Linked DNA regions of Homo sapiens. The protein of the gene in region 5 interacts with the protein of the main gene of each other region in a pairwise test. Each region holds a gene or a part of one and is shown on either strand. Other genes may lie near its edges. The genes, in order: MAGEC3, LPIN1, SYNCRIP, LARP4B, PIAS4, GABPB2 and MTNAP1.

Region 1 (3,500 bases), on a different chromosome or scaffold from region 5:
GCCAAGTAAGAGGGAATTAATGCAAAGTTGTCCCAGGTAGCCTTCCCCCAGCCACTATTGAGATTTCAAGTCCTGCTCTCAGGAAGCAAAGGTTCATGAAAGCAGTCAGGCCTTTTATGGCTGAGACAAGGGGGCAGAAGTAGCTGCTATTTCCTGTGCTCCTCTTTGACTCTTATCTTACTTCTCCCTGGTACTGAAGTGACCAAAGACCCCAGCCTCTTTCAGTGCTTTCAAATCCAGCCTTACAGATGCTCTAATTTACTCATACTGCGAACTTGCTTAAAGATAATTTATACAAAGACTTATTATTCTAAGAATGTCTGTGTATTTCTGAGGTTTTTTATAATAAACATATTTTAAGGTAGGTTTTGAATTTCCCTGTAATTGTTTTTTCTGTTTAATATGAAAAAGGGTTCCACTTACATTAGGGTTTTTGTATGGATATTCTGTTGTTCCACTGACACTTATTTCAAGAAGACTGTCTCCTGTTCTAAAGCTGCAAGTTTTAAAAATCAGTTAAGCACATGTTTATACATGTTTTGTTGGTTTTGTTTTTCAGAACTCTCCATTCAGTTCCTTTGGTCTATCTGTCAATCTCTGCACCCAAATCTCAAACTCTTCATTATAGTAGCTTTGTAATTCTTACTGTCTGGTAGACTAATGACTCTTTTTCAAGTGTATATTGACTATGCTTGTCCATTTGCATGTCTTTATATTTTAGAATCAGGTGATTCACACATGCCTTCATGTCCAAAGCCCTTTGGCAGTTTTGATTTAGGATTGCAGTCGATCTGTAGATTCCTTTTTGGGAAGAATCAACATATTTAAAATATTGAATCTTCATGCCCATGAATTTATTTTATTTTATGTTCAGGTAGGTCTTTGTTAATATGCCTCAACAGCATTTTAATATTTTTGTCTGTAAAAATTTTTTGGTTAAGCTTTTTTAACCAAAAAATATTTTAACCAGCCATCAGCTGCCTCCCAGTCTTATTTGGTTAAAATGTTTTTGGTTAAATTATTTTCCTAAGATACTTGATATTTTGGTACTATAGGTTAAAATTATATAGTCTTTACTTTCATTTTCATACTCTTTCCCTGACAAAAAACGAAGTTGATATTCTTTTGAATATTGACCTTATACTAGCAAACTGATATACTATTATATATTGAATAAATTATCTTTAGTTGTTTTGGATTCTTTTCATGCACAGTCTAATCATGCATGAATCACAAACGCTTTGTTTCCAACTGGCCAATCCTCATTCCTTCATTTACTGCTCTTTGGATTACTACACTGGCTACTACCTCTAGTATAAAAAGTAATAGAAGTACTTGTAGCAGAAACTCTAGGTTAGGTCTCAAGTTCAAACTAGAGGCTTCCAACATTTCCTTAAAAGATGTATCTGTTGTAGGTTTTTCATGCATATCCTTTTATCTAGTTTGGTAACATTTTTCATATTTGATAAACTTTATGTTTAAATAATTTTAGATTTACAAGAAAATTATAACAATAGTAAGAAAGTTCTCATATGTTCCACACTCAATGCCTCCTGTTATTAACACCTTACCTTGGTAAGGTTTCCTAAAACTAATGAGCCAGTATTTGTACATTGTTTTTAACAAACATTCTTTATTTATTATTGAACATACTTCAGTCACATTTTCTTACTTTTCACGAAATTCTATTTTCTATGCCAGGATCCCCTAAGGATACTCCATTACATTTAGTTATCATGTTCCTTCGATGCCCTTTGGCTGTACCGGTTGATTGAGACATTTCTCGATTTTGAAAACATTGACAGTTTTGACAGTTTCGTATGGTTAGGTATTTTGTAAAATTGACTTTGACTGGGATTTATGTGATTTTTTTCTGTCATGATTTGATGTAGGTAATGTTTCCTGGAAGGATGAACAGAGAGGTGAAGTGCCGTTCTTATCATACCGACAGCACATAGTACCAACAAAATTTGTCACTGATGATGTTAACTTGATTACCATGGCATCATCGTGCTTTTTAGCTTTATTCAGGGTAAAATTACATTATTTTTTGCCGTATGTTATACTGTCATCATGAGAAGAACAGGGAGACCCAGGACCAGCCAGTAGTCACATGAAGCCTCTGAGAGATAACTGCAAGACTCCCTGCCCACAAAGAGAAGGATCCACAGAATCCAGCTCCACTGCTGCTGTCAGCCCTGGGAGGCCCTGGGGCATGGTGGCCCACTGTGGTGTCCCCCTGACATTTTAGAGGGTAGAAAGAGGAGAAGGCTCTGCCTAGGTGAGTCTCACTTCAGATCATGAGAGGTGAAGGGACTCAGGCCCTTCCAGGCATCCCCAGGATGACACAGAGGAAGGACTGGTGAGACACCCCTCCCAAGAAACAGAAGGACACACAAATCCAGGCCCTGTTTTCACCCCTGGGAGGCCTTGGGCAGGGCCCTCAGTCAGAGATGCTAGCGCTTTTCACTTCGTCTTGGGGGGCGTCTCATGGAAATGGGGACCTTGATCTGAAGAACATAGTCTCTGGACAGCAGGGGAAGGGCTCCCAGGCCATGTCAGGAATAATAACTGCAGGAAAACAGAGAGTCCTGCCCACCCCATTTTAGAAAAAGGACACCAGAGTCCTGCCTTGGGCCTGGGAGGCCCCACCCCACTGTGGGTGGATGTGATTCTCCCTCTCTTGCACCTTGCAGGTCTCAGGGATGGGAGGGGCTTATTCGGAGGTGAAAGACTCAGTTGCACAGAGGCAGGAAGGCCAGGCGGTTTCCAGGAGTCCAGGCACAGCCTCTCGGGAAGGCAGGAAGGGAACACCCATGACTGGTAGTGCCCCTCCCCTGTCCCTGTGCCTGCTGCCAGCTCTGGAGGACCCTATCAGGGTCCCCAGGTTTACAACTTTCTGACTTGCATTTTGGGAGTCAGCCGGAGGGGAAGTTTTCTCTGAGGAGGGCAGTTTCAGTTAAGCAGAGGGAGGAACCCCAGGACTGGCCACTCAACGAGAAGAGAACTCTGTGGAAGGACAGTGACCTTCCAACATGGAGGAGAGGCACAGGCTACACCCTTTCCCTTCCTGCCGTCAGCCCTGGAAAAAGGTTGTGGGGGGAGAAAGCGGGGAGGTGGGCAGGGAAATATGGACGAGGGCTTTGAAGTGAGGAGGAAAAGGTGGAGGGATACCGAGAGGTGGGCAGGAAGGGGTGGAAAGGGTCGGGGAGGTAGGCAGGAAGGGGTGGAGGGGGCCCAGGAGATGGGCAGGAAGGGGTGGAGAAGGGCCGGGAGGTGGTCAGGAAAGTGTGGGAAAGAGGTAGAGAGGTGAGGGGTGGTTCCTCCATAGAGAGGAGACCTAGCCCCACTGGGAGTCTGAAGTATTTGAGGCATTTTGTGAGAAGGCTTAATTGAGATCAGCAGACAGAAGACTCTTAGAACTGGCCGATCCTCAAGGTAAGGGCCCTAAGGGAGAACTGAGGGACCTCCCACCACAGAAAGAAGAAGCTCTTGCCTGC
Region 2 (3,500 bases), on a different chromosome or scaffold from region 5:
TGAGGTCAGGAATTCGAGACCAGCCTGGCCAACATGGTCAGGCTCTCTACAAAATACCCCATCTCTACAGAAATACAAAAATTAGCATGATGGTGAGTGCCTGTAATCCCAGCTACTCGAGAGGCTGAGGCAGGAGAATTGCTTGAACCCAGGAGGCAGAGGTTGCAATGGGCTGAGATCACGTCATTGTACTCCAGCCTGGGCGACAGAGTGAGACTCCATCTCAAAAAAATATAAAATAAATAAATAAATAAAGGGATTTGAATTATTTTAGTCCACGCCTCTTAATGGACAATTCAGGAATCTGCTGTTCCACTCATTTATTATGCAAGTAAATAACAATGATTTTAATTCCCTTTCTAGTTCCTTCAACTAGAACATTACCTAAGGCACGTTATCTGGGACATAACAGTGGGTCCATTTTCACATTGTGGGTTTGCTCCTTGGAAATGAAATGATGTCATGGTAAGCAACATCTAATTATATATAAGACTGGCCGAGCAAATGCAAATGCAAAACTGTCTCAATAAATGTACTCTTACAATCCCCGTTTTTGTTCATCTTTCTCACTTGTACTTTTCTTCCTACTCTCCTTTCTTTAAGAACTAAGTGGCCAGGCGTGGTGGCTTATGCCTGTGATCCCAGCACTTTGGGAGGCCAAGGCGGGCAGATCATGAGGTCAGGAGACCGAGATCATCCTGGCTAACACGGTGAAACCACGTCTCTACTAAAAATACAAAAAATAAGCCAGGCACAGTGGCACGCACCTGTAGTCCCAGCTACTCAGGAGGCTGAGGCAGGAGAGTCGCTTGAACCCAGGAGGCGCAGCTTGCAGTGAGCCGAGACGGCGCCACTGAACTCCAGCTTGGGCGACAGAGCGAGACTCTGTCTCAAAAAAAAAAAAAAAAGAACTAAGTGTCTTGCAGGAGTTGAACAATAATTACCCCTCAAATCTGGATTTCCACCTGCCTCCTCCATTTCCTCCCCCGGCTGTCCAGGTATATGACCCCTTCATAAACATGCCCACACAACTCTATCTTTCAGCCTCAACCTTCTCCTCAGCCCTCCAGCCCAGCCATCCAGGGCAGTAGCTTGATCAATATTACTGTCATTTGTCAAGTGGCTGAACAGACATCTGTCTACCAAGTGAGTCTTCTCTCCTTGAGGACAGGGACGAGGCTTGCTCATTTCTGACGCGGTACCTGCCCCATCGCAGGGCCCATCTCAAGCAAGAAACTTTTATTTTTGGTCCCATCACGACATTCCAGAGTGTAAAACAGCAAGATGCACCCACCACCCTCAAAGTAGCTTGGCAAGTCGGGGCACGAGGGGGAAAAGCACTAAAATTTAAAAATGAGAAGAAATGGCCGGGCGCGGTGGCTCATGCCTGTAATCCCAGCACTTTGGGAGGCTGAGGCGGGCGGATCACGAGGTCAGGAGATCGAGACCATCCTGGCTAACATGGTGAAACCCCGTCTCTGCTAAAAATACAAAAAAGATTAGCCGGGCATGGTGGCGGGCGCCTGTAGTCCCAGCTACTTGGGAGGCTGAGGCAGGAGAATGGCGTGAACCCGGGAGGCAGAGCTTGCAGTGAGCCGAGATCGTGCCACTGCACTCCAGCCTGGGTGACTCCGTCTCAAAAAAAAAAAAAAAAATTAGAAGAAATGAAGAAGACAGCAGGAATTGTTCTCTGCCAGAGCATAAATTTCACAAGACAATGCTCCCAAACAAAATTCACTGCAAACAGTTTAAATAAACAGCTGTGACACCTAAGGGTAAGACTGAAAAGCAGAAATGACACAAAATTGGGGGTCGGAAGGCCTGGCTGTGAGTGTTAACTTCTGGCATTTACCAGCTATGTGTGTGGGAGCAGGGTATTAACACAATGGCTCTGACTGAGCCCACCAGGCTGTCATCCTCAGTGGTCAACACAACGACTAGTTTGGAAAGGTCTTTGCTCCTGGACAACACATGCAAAATCTTATTATTGTCATGACCTCCCATAGGAGGTGGCTACAGAAGCAAGGCTCAGGGTTGGCCCTGGATGTGACACCTTCAAAACTGCTCTCACCCGCAGCATCACCACTCCCTGACAGAGCCTCTCAGAAGGTAAAGTCAAAAGCCATTGTTCAAAACCTTCCCTACAACCCTTAAGGACTTAGAAAGGCCGAAACACCCTCCTGGGTTCAGTCTGTGATTGAAGACTTCTCTGGCACTTGCTCAGCTCCGAGTGATTCATCATTTCCTGGAGAGAAGCTACCCAAAACCCACTCACTGCCCAGAGAGCAAACACGATCTGTCACATCTGCCCTCACGGCAGGTGCTTAAAGGGCACCTGTGGGCTTAAGGCACATCCAAGGAGCCTGGTGATTCAAAAGCCAACCTAATATCACTCTGGGATGGGGTGCCCCTTATCTGTGTTCCTGTTATCAGCAGGAAATTACAGCTCTCAGATACAGACCTGGCTGCTGCTCGTGGGGCCAACGGATCATGTCAGGACAACTAAATGACCACCCCTGGCACCCTTCCTCTAGGGAAGGCACTGTCGGCTCCCCAGCTGGGCTTGACAGGGACGATTTTGGGGCTTCCTGCTCACTGCCCTAGCCGCCCTCCTCTGAGCACACTACAGTCAGTGTCTCAGCACCTGGGGACTCTATCTGTGGTCCGCCCAGCACTGGATAAAGTCACAAACATCACGCTGTTACTGGTGTTCGCCGAGATCACATCCACCTTGGAGGTTTACAAGACAAATGAGGATTTTCATCCAAAGCATTTAAAAACACAAAAAGCTTCTAGGAAGTGCCCAAAATGGTATCATGACTAATAAGACTTGCATGAAAATGAAATTGATTTATAAATAGTGTTAGCTTCCTCCTGTAATTTACACTTACGGCAAAGAGGAAGTCTTTTCAGAGCATTGTGGACTGATACTTAACGGCGGTTGATAAGGGTGATGAATTACCTGTGACAAAAGAGGAAGTCTGGCTCAGACTCAGGGTGATACAGGGAAAGGAACACAGACAGAAAGTCAGGCCACCTGGGCAGCAGCCCACGCCCTGCTGTAACTGGCACACACTTATAGGCAGCTGCTGCCCTCTGCCAGGTCTGGATTGACTGAGTCCACCAGCGTCCCTGTGGTTAAACTGTCCTGGCCAGAGTGCCTTGAGGAGCTTCTTAAACAGAAGAGCACAGCTCTGCATCCATCACTACCTGCTGGGAAATTGGGGACTTTCTTGGCATGCCAGGGTTCGTGAGACATTCCCGTCCAAAATACAAAAACTCACTAGAAAAGCTGGAGATGCTTTAAAAGGCCTGCAGGTCAGAGGCCCTGCAAGTCAGAGGCCTTTTAAAGGTCTTTCAATACTTCCTGACAAAAGTGATGAAAGAGCAAAAACAGCCAGCCCTGGGGTCCCGCCACCAAAGCCCTGCCTGTGTTAGGCAGGTGGGAAATTTTGCAGCTCTTGCAGTGAGCTTCCAGGGTGGCAAAGTGGCAGGCGTCT
Region 3 (3,500 bases), on a different chromosome or scaffold from region 5:
AAATGTATACTGTTCATTTTATGTTCCCCCCACCCCAACCCCGGCCCTTCTCCCATTAATCCCTCAAAAAATATTTTTAACTTGACTATCATTACCTTTGCCATAACCTCAGGATCAGGATCTTCTATAGGATCAGCCCATTCAACAGTTCCAACATTCCCCCAGACCTTGACTTTACCACTCATTAACCTACGCCTTGCCTGGGCAGCTGTTTTGTGATCTTCATATTCAAGAAAGCAAAAGCCTCTGTTTTTTTTCTTGTCATCCGGTTGGTGGTATAAAATGACGTCTGTAAGACCCTCTGCAAGTAAGCAACCATTCCAGGAAAATTAGATGAAATAACTAGCAAATACAAGTGGATCAAAGGATTTATCTAAGATACTACTTAAATATCAAAATGAAAAATCATCTCTTTCCTTCACTAGACATCTTTATAAAAGACTATCAAAAACTAGGTCCGGATTATTTTCCTAATCTGTTTCCAAGTTTTTCAACACAGAAATCTCCAGAAAAGAACATGTGCTCTTTTTAGAGGTAAGGACTACTTTTGTTTTCACTAATTAGATCAGAGAGGCAGATAAAAATTTTCATATAATTGTTCTAAGAAAATGGCAGTATAGATCAAATATGGCTATTTTTCTTATTATGCAAACACTAAAATTATTTTTAATGGCACTTTTCTGGCCTTAGATATCAATGGCTTTATTTCAAATAAAATAGAAGTTATAAGTACTGCATAAAAATTTCCAATGTCCTGAAAGTTGATAACAGGCTGATAATTTGTTAGACACTGTTGGCAGACCAAAATATTTTCTAAAAGCAACCTGTCACTTAAAAGTTGTTACAGTTCAAAAAATTTTTTTACCATGTTGACAATATATAAACTCTGTTTATGGGCCAGGCACGGTGGCTCATACCTGTAATCGCAACACTCTGGGAGGCCGAGGCAAGCAGATCACTTGAGGTCAGGAGTACAAGACCAGCCTGGCCAATATGGTGAAACCCCACCTCTACAAAAGACGCAAAAATTAGCCAGGTGTGGTGGTGCGCGCCTGTAATCCCAGCTACTCAGGAGGCTGAGGCAAGAGAATCCCTTGAATCTGGGAGGCAGAGGCTGCAGGGAGCCAAGATCACACCAGCACACTCCAGCCTGGGCAACAAAGCAAGACTGTCTCCAAAAAAAAAAAAAAAAAAAAACACTCTGCTACGGCAATACTTACTACTCCTGTAATTTCAAGAACATCAAATCATTATTCAAACAATTCTACTAAGAACATCAACTAACACCTAGAGAAAGAACACACAAAGAAATACGATCTTCCAAAACATAGGAAGAACAATGATTTTGCAGAATGAATTCAAACCCTAGCTGTATTCCCTACTAACTTGTACAACGTTTGGCAAGTTATTTCCCAAATCCCTGAATGCCTGTTCTTCTTATCTGAAAAATGGGGTTACCTACACTTCAAAAGTTGTAGTGAGGATTCGATGAGTCAATAAATGTATTTAGAACAATGCATGACGCACAGAAATATGCTATTAATCTTCATTATTAAAAGCTGCACCTCATTCCAAATAAATCCAACTTACCTGTTACTTTGCTAAATTCTTCAAGAATCTGTTCCTTGGTTTTACTCTTAGGAATAGAGCCCACAAAAAGCCTATTGTTGGCAACTGAGATGCAGACACCAATATGTTTTCCAGAACGAATTTCATGATTATTATACTGAAAGGGGAAAAAGTGCATCATGTTTTTAAATTACTTATACAACTAGAACAGTTAATTATAAAAGATACACAAGAGCAAATCATCCTTTAAAAAGTAGTTTACCTTAATTCCCATACAAGGGAATTATGAGGAACAGATTATATTAACAAGACCCATTGGACAAGTTCATGAACCAATTTAATGCAAATAAAAGGTTATTAAATCCTTTACTTGATTAATTAGAAATCAGATCTGCAGCAGCTTAAATTCAAAAACTGCCAGTTCCTCAAAAACTTAACTTTTACTTAAGTTCATCCCATCAACCAGTTATTCTCATACAAGGAAAACTGATCCCAAGATCAGCAAGATCTCTGCCGTTCTGTTAACCAGCACCTAAATCTATTTTTCCATCTTCCCTTCCTCTTATCAAAAGTTGTAATAAGAAATTTCAGGCTTCAAATATTTAAGCCTAAAAAAACAGCTTTTATTTCTAAATCCAACTGTACTTTTTCCCCATTTCATTTTCATTATGCATATAACAAATTATGAAGGAGAAAGAGAAGTAGATTTGTCATGGCAAAAATATACAGAAACAACTTTAAAACTACAGTAAAAAGTAAATTGAATTTTCGAGTAACCATATCCCAGATTATCAGAAAGCAGAGGCAAAAAGCAACATGTCAAAGTGACAAATCCACCAATTAGTATTATTTACAAACCCAAGTGCAAAAGTATCCAAGTAATCTAGAAAAGTGGATTATATGGGTTAGTTAAAACCACACCTCAAAATTTGTTACTAATAATGGCGGCAGCAGCGGCAATAATTATTGATTAATCCTCCCACACCTAACCTCAAAATCTATTCTACACGTGGAGCTACACAAACTAAAGAACCAACATCAATTTCCATACAACTTTATAGAAATACCTTACAGCAAAAGAAACCATTCTTCTATTATGCCCATCCTTGCTAGGTACACCGGGTATAACAGAAGAAAACATGTAAGTCAGAAAGTTGAGTCCTCCCTGTCCCTTCCCCATCTCCAGAAAATCAAAATTTAATAAAGTTCAAATACCATACCTCCAGTTCAGAAAAATTTATTGCTTTCTACCCCACTATTCTGTACAGGCTATTCAAGTGTGTGGCCCTCCTGATCCCAGGTTTACTTCTATTTCTCTACATTTATGCCAGAGACACAACATTAAAAAAAGTAAAAAGATGACTCCTGCTACTTTCTCCTCTCTCTCTCAAATACCTTTTTATATCAACTCTTAAACATACAGGGTTTTTTTTTTTTTGTCTTTTCTGAGACAGAGTCTTGCTCTGTCCCCCAGGCAGGAGTGCAGCAGTGGCACTATCTCGGCTCACTGCAACCTCCGCCTCCTGGGTTCAAGCAATTCTCCTCCCTCTACCTCCCGAGTAGCTGTGATTACAGGCGCCTGCCACCATGCCCGGCTATTTTTTGTATTTTTAGTAGAGACGGGGTTTCACCATGTTGGCCAGGCTGGTCTCAAACTCCTGATCTTGTGATCCACTCGCCTCGGCCTCCCAAAGTGCTGGGATTACAGGTGTGACCCACCATGCTGGGCCACATGCAATTTTTATACTCCTATGGCTCTGAAGAAATTGCCTTCCTTCCCTGAAACTTCTACCATACAAGCTCCTCTGGATACCTGTAAATTAAGTTCAACCACCCAATACTACAATACATAAATCCTAAAAGGGTCAACAAAATACTCCTCCATGTTAACACAGACCAACAGTTCTCAACAGGAGTGATTTTGCCCCCCA
Region 4 (3,500 bases), on a different chromosome or scaffold from region 5:
ATTCAAAAATAGGCAAAGGATTTGAATAGACATTTATCCAAAGAAGACAAATGGCCAATAAGAACAAAAAGGGTGCTTGGCATCACTAACCATTAGGGAAATGCAAGCCAAAACTACAAAGATATACCCACTAGAATGACTACTATCAAAAAAATCAGAAAATAGGCTGGGCGCAGTGGCTCATGCCTGTAATCACAGCACTTTGGCAGGCCGAGGCAGACAGATCACCTGAGGTCAGGAGTTCGAACCCAGCCTGGACAACATGGTTGAACCCTGTCTCTACAAAAAATACAAAAGTTAGCTGGGTGTGGTGGCTCACGCCTGTAATCCCAGCACTTTGGGAGGCTGAGATGGGCAGAGGTCAGGAGTTTGAGACCAGACTGGCCAACATGGTGAAACCCCGTATCTACTAAAAATACAAAATTTAGCTGGGCGTGGTGGCTCACACCTGTAATCTAGGCTACTTGGGAGGCTGAGGCAGGAGAATTGCTTGAACCCGGGAGGTGGACGTTGTAGTGAGCTGAGATTGCTCCAGTGCACTCCAGCCTGGGCAACAGAATTATTCCATTTCAAAAAAAAAAAAAAATCAGAAAATAACAAGTATTGGCAAGGATTTAATAAAACTGGAACCCTTGTACACTGATGGTGGGAATGTAAAATACTATGGCCTGTATGGAAAACTGTATGGTGATTCCACCAAAAAAAGTTAAACATAAGAATTACCATATGATCCAGAAATTCTACTTCTGGAAGGCAGTTCAGCAGCTTTCTACAGAACTAAACATACTCTGACCTTATGATCCAGCAATCACACTCCTGGGTATTTACCCAAAGGAGTTAAAAACTTCCTTCCGTACAAAAACCTGCACATGAATGCTAACAGCATCTTTATTTGTAATTGCCAAAACCTGGAAACAACCAAGATGTCCTTCAGTAGGTGAATGACTAAGTAATTTGTAGTATGTCCAGACAATGGAATGTTATTCAGTGCTAAAAAGAAATGAGTTATCAAGCCTTGAAGACATGGAGGAAGCTTAAATGTACGTTACTAAATGAAAGAAACCTATCTAAGAAGGCTACATCCTGCAGGATTCCAACCCTATGACATTCTGGAAAAGGTAAAACTATGGAGACAGTGAAAAAACCAATGGATGCTAGGGGTTGGGGGGAGGGAGGGGTGAGTAGGCAGAACACAGATGACTTTTAGGGCAGGGAAACTACTCTCTCTGATGCTACAATGGAGGGTACATGTCATTATACATTTCTCCAAACCCACAGAACGTACAACACCAAGAGTGAGCCCTCATGTAAACTGTAGACTCCAGGTAATAATGATGTGCCAATATAGGATCATCAATTATACAAAGGCACCCTCTGGTGAGGGAGTGTGAATAGTGAAGAAGGCCATGCATGTGTGGGGGTGGGGGGGAGGGGAGTATATGGGAGATCTCTATACCTTCCACTAAAACTCGCTGTGAACCTGAAAGTGCTCTAAAAAAAACAGTCTTTTTTTTAAAAAGGATGTTTGATAGCATTAGTCCTTAGGGAAACATAAATTAAAGCCACAGTAAGATTCTACTGTCTCCCTTTTACAGCAGCTAAAATTAAAGACTGACCCTGAGGTCATAAGGGTCATAAGGATGTGGTGCTTTAATCCACCACTGGTTGAGAATAGAAAATGGTACCACCACTTTGGAAAACTGCCTTACCATTTCTTAAAAGGATAAACATGCCTACCAGATGATCCAGCTACTCCATTCCTAGGTATTTTACCCAAGAGAAATGAAAACATATGTTTATATGAAATCTTGCTGACAAATGTTCACTTTTATGAACACTTTTTATTGGCAAAGCCACATTTTGAAAACAATCCCAAAATCCATGAATAGGGGAATAGAAAAACAAACTGTGATCTATCCATATCATGAATACTTCTCAGCAATAAAAATAAATGATTAATTCATGTTACAACATGAATCAGTCTCAAAAATAGTAACCTAAGTCAGACAAAAACAGTACACACTGTCAAATTCTATCACACGTCTGTTGTCCAGCAACTTGTGGGGCTGATGCACATCTCTTGGGCCCAGGAGTTCCATCTTTTTTTTTAAAGAGAAAAAAAATCTACGAAACGCAAACTGACATATAGTGATAGAAAACAGACCACTGGGCCGGGCATGAAGGCTTACACCTGTAATCCCAGCACTTTGGGAGGCCGAGGTGGGCGGGTCATGAGGTCGGGAGATCAAGACCATCCTGGCTAACACGGTGAAACCCCGTCTCTACTAAAAATACAAACAATTAGCCGGGTGTGGTGGTGGGCACCTGTAGTCCCAGCTACTGGGGAGGCTGAGGCAGGAGAATGGCGTGAACCCGGGAGGCGGAGGTTGCAGTGAGCCGAGATCACGCCACTGCATTCCAGCCTGGGTGACACAGCAAGACTCCATCTCAAAAAGAAAAAAACAGACCACCGGTTCCACGGAGAAAGGAGAGGGCACAGGAAGCTCTTCCTGGTGTTTGGGATGTTCGTGATCTTGATTGTGCTGAGGATTTTACAGGTACAGAACAACTTATCAAACTGGGTGGACAAAGCAAAGAGGAATGAAAGAGGCAACACATTAATAATGTATTATTTCCTCAATTGTCTGTAAGCTACAGAAAATCTGGGGTATACCTGAAGTATATGATGTTTATTGTACATCGGTTATGCCTCACTAATGCTTTATAGGAGTGAGAGAGGGAGTAGGTGGAGGCAGATGAAGGAGGAAGACAAAGCAGAAGGTATTCTTTTTCTTCTTTTTGAAAATAGTTTTAAATACCCCTTTTAAAAAGAATCACCTTTTGAAATTAAACTTTCCAGAATATACTTTAACATGTTGTTATTTCACTTTTGATAATGTTCCCTATCTTCTATCTTCAGATAGATTTTAACATGTTATTTCACTTTTGGTAACGTTATCTATCTCCTGTCTTCAGGCAGATTTTCACAAGTTATTTCACTGTTGATAACATTACCCATCTTCCATCCTCAAGACAGATCTTCACATCTGTCTACCTCCTATCTATCTTCCATCTTCTGTATAAATTCTGACCCCAGTTCAAGATTAGGTCATTTCAATTTAGTCTGAAACTTAAATTGTTTATTTTGAACCATTTTACTTCCTACCATTAGGATTCTCACTCCCTCAATGTATAATGCCTTTTTATCTTTTGTAAAAATCTGTTTTAATGATGAGCATTCCTTTCCTTTGCCATCTTAAATTCAATGGACTCTAACATGACTCCAGTTTATCCCAATGTTCTGCCATTCCCAAGTCACTAACCAGTTACTGGTGAATTAACAAGGGGGATGTAATCAAATTACATTGCTGAATACTGGCCTTCCTCAGATTTAGAAAACTGCTCATGTAGACGGGAAATTCACTTTATGCAAATTCAAGATGGCAAATTTATATTTACAAGAAACAAGCATGGCTTAATTTTTGTACCTTTATAAATAC
Region 5 (3,500 bases):
GGTTGCAGTGAGCCGAGATTGTGTAACTGCACTCCAGCCTGGGTGACAGAGTGAGGCTCTGTATCAATAATATAAAATGAGGTAAAATAAAATAAAATACCTCTCTACACACCCACTAGCATGGCTAAAATGAAAGGACTGGCAACTCTAAGAGATGGCAAAGGTGTAGAGCAATCAGAACTCTCTGCTGGTGGGGTTATAAGACAGTACCATCACTCTGGGAAACTACCCTTATAAAGGTAAGCACAGACCTACCCTATCACCCAGGAATCAGGAATCCCACTCCAAAGTATTTTCCCTCAATACATGGAAACATGCGTTCAAAGAAACTTGCAGGCTGGGCACAGCGGCTCATGCCTGTAACCCCAACCCTTCAGGAGGCCAAGGTGGGAGGATCGCTGTAGCACAGGAGTTGGAGCCCAGCCCAGGCAACACAGTGAGACCTTGTCTCTAAAAAAAGTTTTTAAATAAGCCTGAGCCAGGTGTGCTGGTGTGCAGCTGTCATTCCCGCTACTCAGGAGGCTGAGGTGAGAGGACTGCTTGGGCTCAGAAGTTCGAGACCAGCCTGGGCAACATAGCAAGACTGTGTCTACATTAAAAAATATATTTAGATACAAAGCAAAAACGCTGAGCAGCGTGCACGTCCTGCTATCACTTGTGTAATGAAAATGGAGAGAAGGCATCTGAGTAAACACCTATTTGTTTATAAGTGTAAAAAATATCGGAAGAGCGTGGGGGAGCGAGAATCTGGCCACAATGGCAGCCTTGCAGTGGCCGGGAGACGAGACAACGAGATGACAGGCAAGCCCTTTAGAACAGGGATGGCGAACTGCCCCTGGTAAAGGCTGGAGCTCATCAGCTTCGCAGGCTATGTCTGTGCTCCCAGGTGCTCCCAGGACGGCAGTGCACACAGTGGTGTGGCCTGCACCCACGACAGGGCCTTTACAAGAACCGGAGCCATGGGATCGCACCTCAACTACCAGCACTGTCTTGGAACTTTCTCAATTAAAACCCACGAGAAGCCGGGTGCAGTGGCTCACGCCTGTAATCCCAGCACTTTGGGAGGCCGAGGCAGTCGGATCATGAGGTCAGGAGATAGAGACCATCCTGGCTAACATGGTGAAACCCCGTCTCTACTAAAAATACAAAAAATTAGCCGGGCGTGGTGGCAGGCGCCTGTGGTCCCAGCTACTCGGGAGGCTGAGGCAGGAGAATGGCGTGAACCTGGGAGGCGGAGCTTGCAGTGAGCTGAGATCCTGCCGCTGCACTCCAGCCCGGGCGACAGCGAGACTCCATTTCAAAAAAAAAAAAAAGAAAAAAGCCAGACTCCCTGGGCTCGGCTCCCAGCCCTGCCAGGGCCTCTGTGGCCTCAGCCTGCACGTCCCGCCCATGTTGACCTGTTTCTTCGGGGACCGGTGCCGGGTCTGTGGCTGGCCCTCAGGAAGAGGGGGCTGCCACAGCCGGTTCCCGTTTATATGCTCAGGGCACAGCCAGTCTCTGCAGAGGTGATGGGCTGTGGAGTCCCGGCTGGGCCCTTGAGGAAGGCCGCCTAATTGGGAGGGGGGCACACAGGCCACCTGCAGACGCGCCCAGGTCTGCCCTGAGTGCCAGGGGAGCAATGGTTCAGGGGCAGGGAGGCTGCACGGGAGCCTACACCTGAGCTGGGCCTTGAGCTTCCAGGCTGGGTCGGAGGTGAAAACACAGACACCCCACCCCTCAGTGTCTCAGAAGGAGGTAGGGGAGAAGGGTGGGTCCCCAGCAGGCAGCAAGGGAGCCACCCAGCTGGCCAGGGATTGTTGCCAGCCCATGCCTGGGGCAGACAGGGCCCAGTCATTGAAGAACAAGACTCTGGGGTCCCTGCCCTGGGAGGGCTCCTCCCTCTGGGGGAGACCGGGCTGTGCTTCTCTGCTGGGGGCCTGGGAGGTGCCCTGTGCTCTCACTGCTGTGCCACTGGCCCCGGGCCGCTGACGGTTCCCCCCAAACACCCGGCCCCCCTATGCTGGGGAAGGGGCTGTGGGGTCTCCCTCAAACCTGCCCTTCTGCCCTCGGGGTCAGCTGTTTGGGGCCAGAAACCCAGGTGGCATCCATGAAGCCCCCGTCTCTGCTGTCCTGCAAACATCCACTCCCTCAGCCAGTCCTGTCAGCTCTGTTTTCAAATCCCGCCCGGTGCAGACGACTGCCCCCAGCTCTGCCGGTCTCAGCAGCCAGAGCCCGCCCCCTGGGATGGCTCCGCAGGAGACCCCTGACCCTCAGTACCCCTGCTCAGGGCCACACACACCCCGGCGCACACACGGCCACCACCCTGGCCTCCTGCTTGGGCCCCACCAGCCATGCTGCATCAGGGCCTCCGCACCTGCCATTCCCTCTTCTGGAACCTTCCTCCCCCGACCAGCCTCATGGCCCTATATTTGTCTTTGTACAAATGTCACCAGAAGGAAAGCCTTCGCTGAGCACCCCATTTAAAAACCGCACCCCCCGCCACCTCACTTTTCTCCAAACCTTCTCCTCCTAAGGAGCGACTCAGTTTCCCTACATCACTCTGCTGCTCCTTCTTGTTGGGCCACTGAAGCATGAAGTTCCCCAAGGGGGAGATGGTTTCGTGGGCTGCCCAGCATCCAAGGCCACGGGACCAAGGCAAGGGCACCACTGAACCAGATGCACCTTTGGGGCCAGGTGCAAGATCAGGTGACCACGGGGGCCCTGCCAGGCAGAGCCGGTTCTGGGGTGAGGTGCTCAGCCAGGCCCTCCGGCCCGGGCACGAAAAGCAGCCCCTGGGCCCGATCCGAGAGCCCAACAAGAAGGGCCCAGCCGTTGGCTCCACCCAAGGCTGCCAGGGAGCCTCACGAGATGCTGCTGACGATGAATATTTAACGCTGTGAGCAGATGCTCACAGTATGGGGGGTGGTTATAAAATAGCAGCCAGGACACAGCCACACATTCCTACAATCACACATGCAAAGGGAGAAGGCGGCAAGCACCGGCCCGGTGTACCGAGGCGGCCCACTCGGGCAGCAGGGCGCCGGCCGGACTGCTCTGCTGTTGACTCCAGTTTTCTAGGACAAGCGCATAATTGTACAAGTTTAAATAGAAATGAAACACAGGGAGTTTTTAAAAGGCTGACTGGGGCCGGGCCTGGTGGCTCACGCCTATAATCCCAGCACTTTGGGAGGCCGAGGCAGGTGGATCACTTGAGGTTAGGAATTCAAGACAAGCCTGGTCAACATGACGAAACCCCGTCTCCATTAAAAATACAAAAAATGAGACTGGGCGCAGTGGCTCACGCCTGTAACCCCAGCACTTTGGGAGGCCAAGGTAGGTGGATCACCTGAAGTCAGGAGTTCAAGACTAGCCTGGTCAAGATGGTGAAACCTCGTCTCTACTAAAAGTACATAAAATTAGCTGGGTGTGGTGGTGCGTGCCTGTAATCTCAGTTACTTGGGAGGCTGAGGCAGGAGAATCGCTTGAAGCCAGGAGGCTGTAGTAAGCCAAGATCGCGCCAC
Region 6 (3,500 bases), on a different chromosome or scaffold from region 5:
CCATGGCTCACTGCAGTTTTGACCTCCAAGGCACAAGCGATCCTCCCACCTCAGCCTCCTGAGTAGCTGGAACCATAGGTGCCTGTCACCATACTTGGCTAATTTTTAAATTTTTTGTAGACACAGGTTTCTATGTTGCCCAGGCGCATCTCAAACTCCTGGACTCAAGCAATTCTCCCATTTCAACGTCCCAAAGTGTTGGGATTACAGGTGTGAGCCACCACACGCAGCTTATTTCAGTTTCTTACACAAGCATCTGAACTATAGACACATAATGGATAAGTATCTGTCAGACAATCAAAAATTTCTTCTCAGTGATGTGGTGGCATATGCCTGTCCTCCCAGCTACTCAGGAGGCTGCGCCCTGGAGGCGGAGGTTGCAGTGAGCCAAGATTGCACCACTGTACTCTAGCCTGGGTGACAGAGTCAGACCGTGTCTCAAAAAAAAAAAAAAAAAGGGAAAATTCTCTTCAGTGAAATTAACTTAAGGTTGGGAGTTCCTGCTCCTTTGGAAATGGACTATATTCCTTTTCTCTTCCCCAAAGCTTGTCTAACTTCCCTTCCAATTGGTTTTTCCAACAGATACGCATCATAAATCTAAGGGGCATTTTCAGGTCACTTGATGGTATAATTATTAAAGGCATATATATTGGTGCATATATATTAGAAATGTTATCTTAAAATCTTTTGTGAGAAAGTCAGTTATTTAAAAAAAAAAAATCAACCCACAACATGCAGTATTCTTTTACTTCTATGTTTAAAGCAATGATATGAGCTAAGAAATTTGGTCCTTTATTCTTTTGGCCCCTCAGAAAAAATGTTCCCTAAATATGGCTTTGAATTTTCTAGTTGCACAGAGAAACTTCCTGAGCCCAAGCATTGTACCCTGCTATAGTTTTCTTCTTAAAGACACTCTTAGTTTTTATACAATGTTTGTCTTCTGTATATTTCCTTTTTTAAAAGAGGATTAATATGAACACAGTGCAAATTGTGGCCCTTGCATATTAAGATGAAACAGTTGCCATGGAAACTCTAGTGTGAGGCTCTGTGGTCCCTGCTGACCCAGTCACTTTTGTCTCTCTCTCTTCCAACTCCCCCTCTGTGACTACTACAGCATCTACCTCAGCCACCTCTTCAACCATGGTGAAATCAACTCCATTGGGCTGCTGTCGGGCTATGGCCTCCAGCTTAAGACGGTACTGTTCTGCTTCCTGCTCTTTCTTTAGGAGCTGGTGTCGGTATTCCTGGGCTCTTCGATTGGCCTCCTGGAGTTGTTGCTGTAGTAGCTCTCTTTCATTGCCTTCCTGTAAAAGTAAGCCATGTCACCACCAGGTAAATTCCTGATCATAAATTATCCAGACAGTAGACAAAAAGACAGGCCAGGAGCGGTGCCTCACACCTATAATCCAAGCACTTTGGGAGGCAGAGGTAGGCAGATTATCTGAGGTCAAGAGTTCGAGACCAACTTGGCCAACATGGCAAAACCCTGTCTCTACTAAAAATACAAAAATTAGCCAGGCATGGTGGCAGGTGCCTGTAATCCCAGCTACTCAGGAGGCTGAGGCATGAGAATCACTTGAGCCCGGGAGGCGGAGGTTGCAGTGAGCTGAGATCATGCCACTGTACTCCAGCCTGGGCAACACAGCAAGACTCCGTCTCAAAAAGAAAAAAGAAAAGATGAAGAAGGGTTCAGGCCTTAATAATTAAGGCTTTAAATTCTTTTCATCACTCCTAAAAACATTACCTTGCTTTCCTCCACACTGTTTGTCTTCTCTCCTATCCTTGGTTTCTTTGTTAGTGGCAACTTCTCTTCTTCTTCCTCTTTAATTACAGTCTCCTCTGCAACCTTACCAGCAGGTACAGTTAGAACTACAAGTCAAAGGACACCAATTGGAGGTGATGAATGCATAATAAAACAAAGAGGTTTTGCTTGCTTTTAATTAGAAAATAAACTAAAATATATTCTAGGTTGGGTACAGTGGTGTGTGCCTGTGGTCCTAGCTACTCAGGCAGCTGACTGGAGGACTTCTTGAATCCAGGAGTTCAAGACTAGCCTAGACAACACAGCAAGACCCCATCTCAACAAAAAAGCAAAGAAAGAGAAAGTAAAATATATTCCTTGATATATTATTTTTAATATCTCTTTGAATTTTCGAATCAACAGGTAAGGCATGGCCCTTCAGGGAGAAACAAAAAGGATTAATAGAGCACTGAGAATGGCTCAAAAAGGAAGGGTATAGATTTGCAGGCTTGGAAGCCATGCAAGTAAGTCCCAAGTCTGAAGCTCTTATATGAAGGTGTCTGACTCTAGGTCACCTATGGCCAATTAGCTTATCAATCCGCCCAGAAATGGCAGGGCAAGGTGGCTCACACCTATAATTCTAGCATGTTGGGAGGCTAAGGTGGGAGGATCACTTGAGCCCAGGAGTTCAAGACCAGCTTGGGCAACATGGCAAACACTGTCTCCGCAAAAAAAATACAAAAAATTAGCCAGGCATGGTGGAGCATGCCTGTAATTCCAGCTACTTGGGAGGCTGAAGTGGGAGGATCACCTGAGCCTGGGAAGTTGAGGCCGTAGTGAGCCAAGAACTCGCGACTGCACTCCAGCCTGGGTGACAGAATGAGACCCTGTCTTAAAACAAACAAACAAACAAAAAAAACTGCAGAAATAATCTGTCAAAAGAAGGCCTGAAGTCTTTATATATTTTTGAGACCTCTAATAAAAGCCAATAGCCATTATCTGTACCTAAATTAATTCTCTTCTCATAGATAAGTGAGAGAAGAGTCAACACACACACAACACACATGACACACTACACATCTGTCAGAATGGCTAAAAGTTGTTTTTTTTTTTTTTTTGAGATGGAATTTTGCTCTCGTTGCCCAGACTGGAGTGCAATGGCGTGATCTCTGGAGTGCAATGGCTAACTGCAACCTCCGCTTCCCAGGTTCAAGTGATCTCCTGCCTCAGCCTCCCAAATAGCTGGGATTACAGGCATGCCCCACTACACCCGGCTAATTCTGTATTTTTAGTAGAGACAGGGTTTCTCCGTGTTGGTCAGTCTGGTCTCAAACTCCCGACCTCACGTGATCCACCTGCCTTGGCCTCCCAAAGTGCTGGGATTACAGGCGTGAGCTACCACACCCGGCCTTTTTTTATCGAGAAGTCTCACTCTGTAACCTAGGCTGGAGTGCAGTGGCACAATCTCAGCTCACTGCAACCCCCACCTCCTGGGTTCAAGCAATTCTCCTGCCTCAGCCTCCTGAGTAGCTGGGACTACAGGTGCATGCCATCACACACAGTTAATTTTTGTATTTTTAATAGAGATGAGGTTTCTCCATGTTAGCCAGACTGGTCTCAAACTCCTGACCTCAGATATTCCACCTGCCTTGGCCTCCCAAAGTACTGGGATTACAAGTGTGAGCCACTGTGCCGGGCTAAAAGTTTTTTAAAAAGTGATGATACCAAATGCTGGAGAGGATGTAGACATACTGGATTA
Region 7 (3,500 bases), on a different chromosome or scaffold from region 5:
CCTTGCTTAACAGCCCGAAGAGAAACTTTTCCAAATGCCCAGAACCTGCAACAGAAGACAACAGTCAAACTCCAGCCTCACCTTTTTGTACAGCTCCCAAGAGCCTCATTAGAGAGAAGTTGGAGGTTGTAAGTCCGGCAGGGGGTTCCAAACTCCTTATATGAGTTGAGCTTCGTTCCAACAAAGAAACTATGGTTCCAAACAGAAGTCACTGTCATTGTTTACCGAAACGTACCCCCTTCCCTAACATCCAGTGCCGAAGGATCCACGGCTAAGCCTCAGGAAGAGCATATTCTAAACAGGTGCATTAAAGATTTCTGCATTGGACTGCAGCTAAGTGTTGAAAGTCAAATCAATTACAGGTTGAAAAAATGTTTTTCAAAAGGCCAAGGGACCCCTGAAAATCAGGGCGTCTACTTGTTTTTTGGTCTGCTGAGTACCCTGGCCAGGTGATTGATGCGCATGTGCTTCATGAAGTGAGTCTCTTACATCATCTTTTTGTTTTTGACACAGTCTCACTCTCTCGCCCAGGCTGGAGTGCAGTGGCATGATCTTGGCTCACTGCAACCTCTACCTCCTGGGTTCGAGTGATTCTCCTGCCTCAGCCTCCCGAGTAGCTGGGATTACAGGCACACGCCATCACGCCAGGCTAATTTTTGTTATTTAGTAGAGACGGGGTTTCGCCACTTTGGCCAGGCTGGTCTTGAACTCCTGACCTCATGTGTTCTGCCCGCCCCAGCCTCCCAAACTGCTGGGATTATAGGCATGAACCACTGCGCCTGGCCTCTTTTACATATTCTATCATCTGCTAAACATGTCAGCTAAAAGCGTGACTTTCTCCTTTTATGATTGTGACTTGCCCACAGTCAACATGCCTGTTCTATCACCCTATCGCTATTATTGGCCAGCAAACATTTCCTATTTATGTTCAGTGCATGAATAACTTAAGCAGAACCAGAAAAGAGGGCTTATGCAGGCCGGGCGCGGTGGCTCACGCCTGTAATCCCAGCACTTTGGGAGGCTGAGGTGGGTGGATCACGACGTCAGGAGATTGAGACCATCCTGGCTAACACTGTAAAACCCCGTCTCTACTAAAAAACAGAAAAAATTAGCCGGGCGTGGTGGCGGGCGCTTGTAGTCCCAGCTACACGGGAGACTGAGGCAGGAGAATGGCGTGAACCCAGGAGGCGGAGCTTGCAGTGAGCAGAGATCGCTACACTGCACTCCAGCCTGGGCAACAGAGCAAGACTCTGCCTCAAAAACAAAAAAAAGAGGGCTTATGCTCCTTAATCACATTTCTCCTGTACATGGTTTTCTCCATGTTTTATGACAGGTAATCTCTACTACTGATAGTTCTCTAGTCTTGGTTTGGTTCATCAAGATAAAGAAGAAATTAAACACCGACAACAGGTTTAGCAAGTGTGGTAAAAGTTGCTGTGGATGTAAAAATATCCAAATGATCATTAAAGAACAATGAAAAGAATCATGCTGGCTTCCAAGAAATTGCACAGAAGATAATTCTCTTGCAAGGTGAAGGTTAGTCTCTTAAAAAAAAAACCCATTCATCTTGGAAAAAATTTGAGGAAAACGGTGTAAAGAGACAACTTCCTGAAAATTGCAACCATGTTGTCAGCAGTGTCAGGATCACGTGGCTCCCTGACCTTGCCCTGCTTTCTCCAGTCAGGTGAGCCTACTGTCCTGACCTGCAGTTAATTCAGTAACTGTTAGCTCACTGGCCCTGCCTTTTAAGTACCAAAGGAATGAGTTGGCTTCCTGAGAAGGGCAAATGACCTATCAAAGGTCTTGCCTGAGTGAGAAAAGGTATAGCCCATTCTCTTGTGCAAAGATTCCAATAAAACTCTAATTTGCAGTCATTGGAGACAGTCATTGCCTGGTGAAATTACAAAGCTTTTTAAGGAGCCAATGGCACCATCTTTTAATCCCTATAGATTGATATGGCCTTGAAGTCCTTGGCCAATGGAGGGATCAGGGCTTGACCTGATCCTAGGGTCTCTCTCCTCTAGTATCTTGTGTTCATTTGGTGGTAACATCAAAGTCTGAACACTGATCCTGGATCCAACTTCAATAGTTTTTCAGTTTATAATAGAAGTAGAGGCCCTATGATGATTACACCTTATTTACTGTCTTGATGTAGAAGTCCCAAACTAAGTACAACATTTATTAGTTACAGACTATGAGCAATAAAAGGGATTAAAATAGTTTCTCACCACTATTTGGAAGGAACTTGTTACTGAAGAAAAAATTCTATTTTCCCTCCTATATCCTGTCTCATAACCTTGGTAATTTAATGTTTTAAGTTACTGTATCTTATTATTGTATTCTTAGGAGCTAACAGTGAAATGTATCAATAACATATCAAACAAGGTATTGACTTCTATCTGTGGTCTTTAAACTCTACTTGAGGCTTACTGTTTGGGAGAGTTAGTAGTTAATACCTCCAGGTTCACCTGACTCTTCTATCTGTGGTCTTTAAACTCAACTTGAGGTTCACTGTTTGGAATAGTTAGTAGAGTCAGACGAACCTGGGTTTGAATCCTGATTCTGTCACTTACTGCATGAACATAGGGAAGTCACTTAATGTCTGAAGCTCAGGCCAGGCCTGGTGGCTCACACCTGTAATCCCAGCACTTTGGGAGGCCAAGGCGGGAGGATCACCTGAGGTCAGGAGTTCGAGACCAGCCTGGCCAACATGGCAAAACCCCATCTCTACTTAAAAAAAAAAAAAATTAGCTGGGCGTGGTGGCAGGCACCTGTAATCCCAGCTACTCTGGAGCCTGAAGCAGGAGAATCGCTTGAACCTGGGAGGTGGAGGTTGCAGTGAGCCGTGATTGTGCCATTGCACTCCAGCCTGGGAGACAGAGCAAGACTCTGTCTCAAGAAAAAAAAAAAAAGATGTCTGAAGCTCAGATTCCTCAAGAGGAATAAGAGGGTGGGACAGTGGTGTCACTCAGAGCTGTTATGAGGATTAAATGACATAATGTATCTAGCATAACGATAGTCATAGTCATCACAGATAAACGTCAGGTCCCTCACTTTTTCCTCTAAAATGAAAAGTGTGTATCAAGGACACTCCTAAGCACTATAAAATGTAGTACAGAAAATACACAAGTCCTTCAATTTGGTAGAGAGATTTATCATGGGGGGAGTGTGTGCATCTGCAACTGAAAAACACAGAAGGCTGGACACGGTGGTTCACACCTGTAATCCCAGCACTTTGGGAGGTTGAGGCGGGCAGATCACCTGAGGTCACGAGTTCAAGACCAGCCTGACCAACACGGAGAAACCCCATCTCTACTAAAAATACAAAATTAGCCGGGCGTGGTGGCGCATACCTGTATCCCAGCTACTTGGGAGGCTGAGGCAGGAGAATCGCTTGAACCCAGGAGGCAGAGGTGAGCCAAGATCACACCACTGCACTCCAACCTGGGCAATGAGCAAAACTCTGTCTCAAAAAACAAACAAACAAAAAAACAAAACAC

The links.
Region 1: the proteins of PIAS4 (region 5) and MAGEC3 interact in binary tests that used the Homo sapiens proteins (3 or more experiments, as listed by UniProt).
Region 2: the proteins of PIAS4 (region 5) and LPIN1 interact in binary tests that used the Homo sapiens proteins (3 or more experiments, as listed by UniProt).
Region 3: the proteins of PIAS4 (region 5) and SYNCRIP interact in binary tests that used the Homo sapiens proteins (3 or more experiments, as listed by UniProt).
Region 4: the proteins of PIAS4 (region 5) and LARP4B interact in binary tests that used the Homo sapiens proteins (3 or more experiments, as listed by UniProt).
Region 6: the proteins of PIAS4 (region 5) and GABPB2 interact in binary tests that used the Homo sapiens proteins (3 or more experiments, as listed by UniProt).
Region 7: the proteins of PIAS4 (region 5) and MTNAP1 interact in binary tests that used the Homo sapiens proteins (3 or more experiments, as listed by UniProt).

Annotation. Positions count from the first base shown.
Region 1 is NC_000023.11:141,876,316-141,879,815, forward strand, and holds part of MAGEC3 (melanoma-associated antigen C3), read left to right. Parts: intron 1-2,859; coding exon 2,860-3,116; intron 3,117-3,500.
Region 2 is NC_000002.12:11,753,132-11,756,631, reverse strand, and holds part of LPIN1 (phosphatidate phosphatase LPIN1), read right to left. Parts: intron 886-3,500; exon of another isoform or gene 768-885; intron 1-767. UniProt on the Homo sapiens protein: Acts as a magnesium-dependent phosphatidate phosphatase enzyme which catalyzes the conversion of phosphatidic acid to diacylglycerol during triglyceride, phosphatidylcholine and phosphatidylethanolamine biosynthesis and therefore controls the metabolism of fatty acids at different levels.
Region 3 is NC_000006.12:85,622,387-85,625,886, forward strand, and holds part of SYNCRIP (heterogeneous nuclear ribonucleoprotein Q), read right to left. Parts: intron 1,727-3,500; coding exon 1,591-1,726; intron 302-1,590; coding exon 96-301; intron 1-95. UniProt on the Homo sapiens protein: Heterogenous nuclear ribonucleoprotein (hnRNP) implicated in mRNA processing mechanisms. Component of the CRD-mediated complex that promotes MYC mRNA stability.
Region 4 is NC_000010.11:858,706-862,205, forward strand, and holds part of LARP4B (la-related protein 4B), read right to left. Parts: intron 1-3,500. UniProt on the Homo sapiens protein: Stimulates mRNA translation.
Region 5 is NC_000019.10:4,017,736-4,021,235, reverse strand, and holds part of PIAS4 (E3 SUMO-protein ligase PIAS4), read right to left. Parts: intron 1-3,500.
Region 6 is NC_000001.11:151,115,761-151,119,260, reverse strand, and holds part of GABPB2 (GA-binding protein subunit beta-2), read right to left. Parts: intron 1,870-3,500; coding exon 1,745-1,869; intron 1,305-1,744; coding exon 1,005-1,304; 3' UTR 1-1,004. UniProt on the Homo sapiens protein: May function as transcription factor capable of interacting with purine rich repeats (GA repeats).
Region 7 is NC_000017.11:73,238,933-73,242,432, reverse strand, and holds part of MTNAP1 (mitochondrial nucleoid-associated protein 1), read right to left. Parts: intron 333-3,500; exon of another isoform or gene 190-332; coding exon 82-189; exon of another isoform or gene 11-81; coding exon of another isoform or gene 1-10. Other genes in the region: CPSF4L (putative cleavage and polyadenylation specificity factor subunit 4-like protein), read left to right, coding at 1-10. UniProt on the Homo sapiens protein: Critical regulator of mitochondrial DNA (mtDNA) abundance. Binds dsDNA throughout the mitochondrial genome without sequence specificity and controls mtDNA copy number by promoting its replication.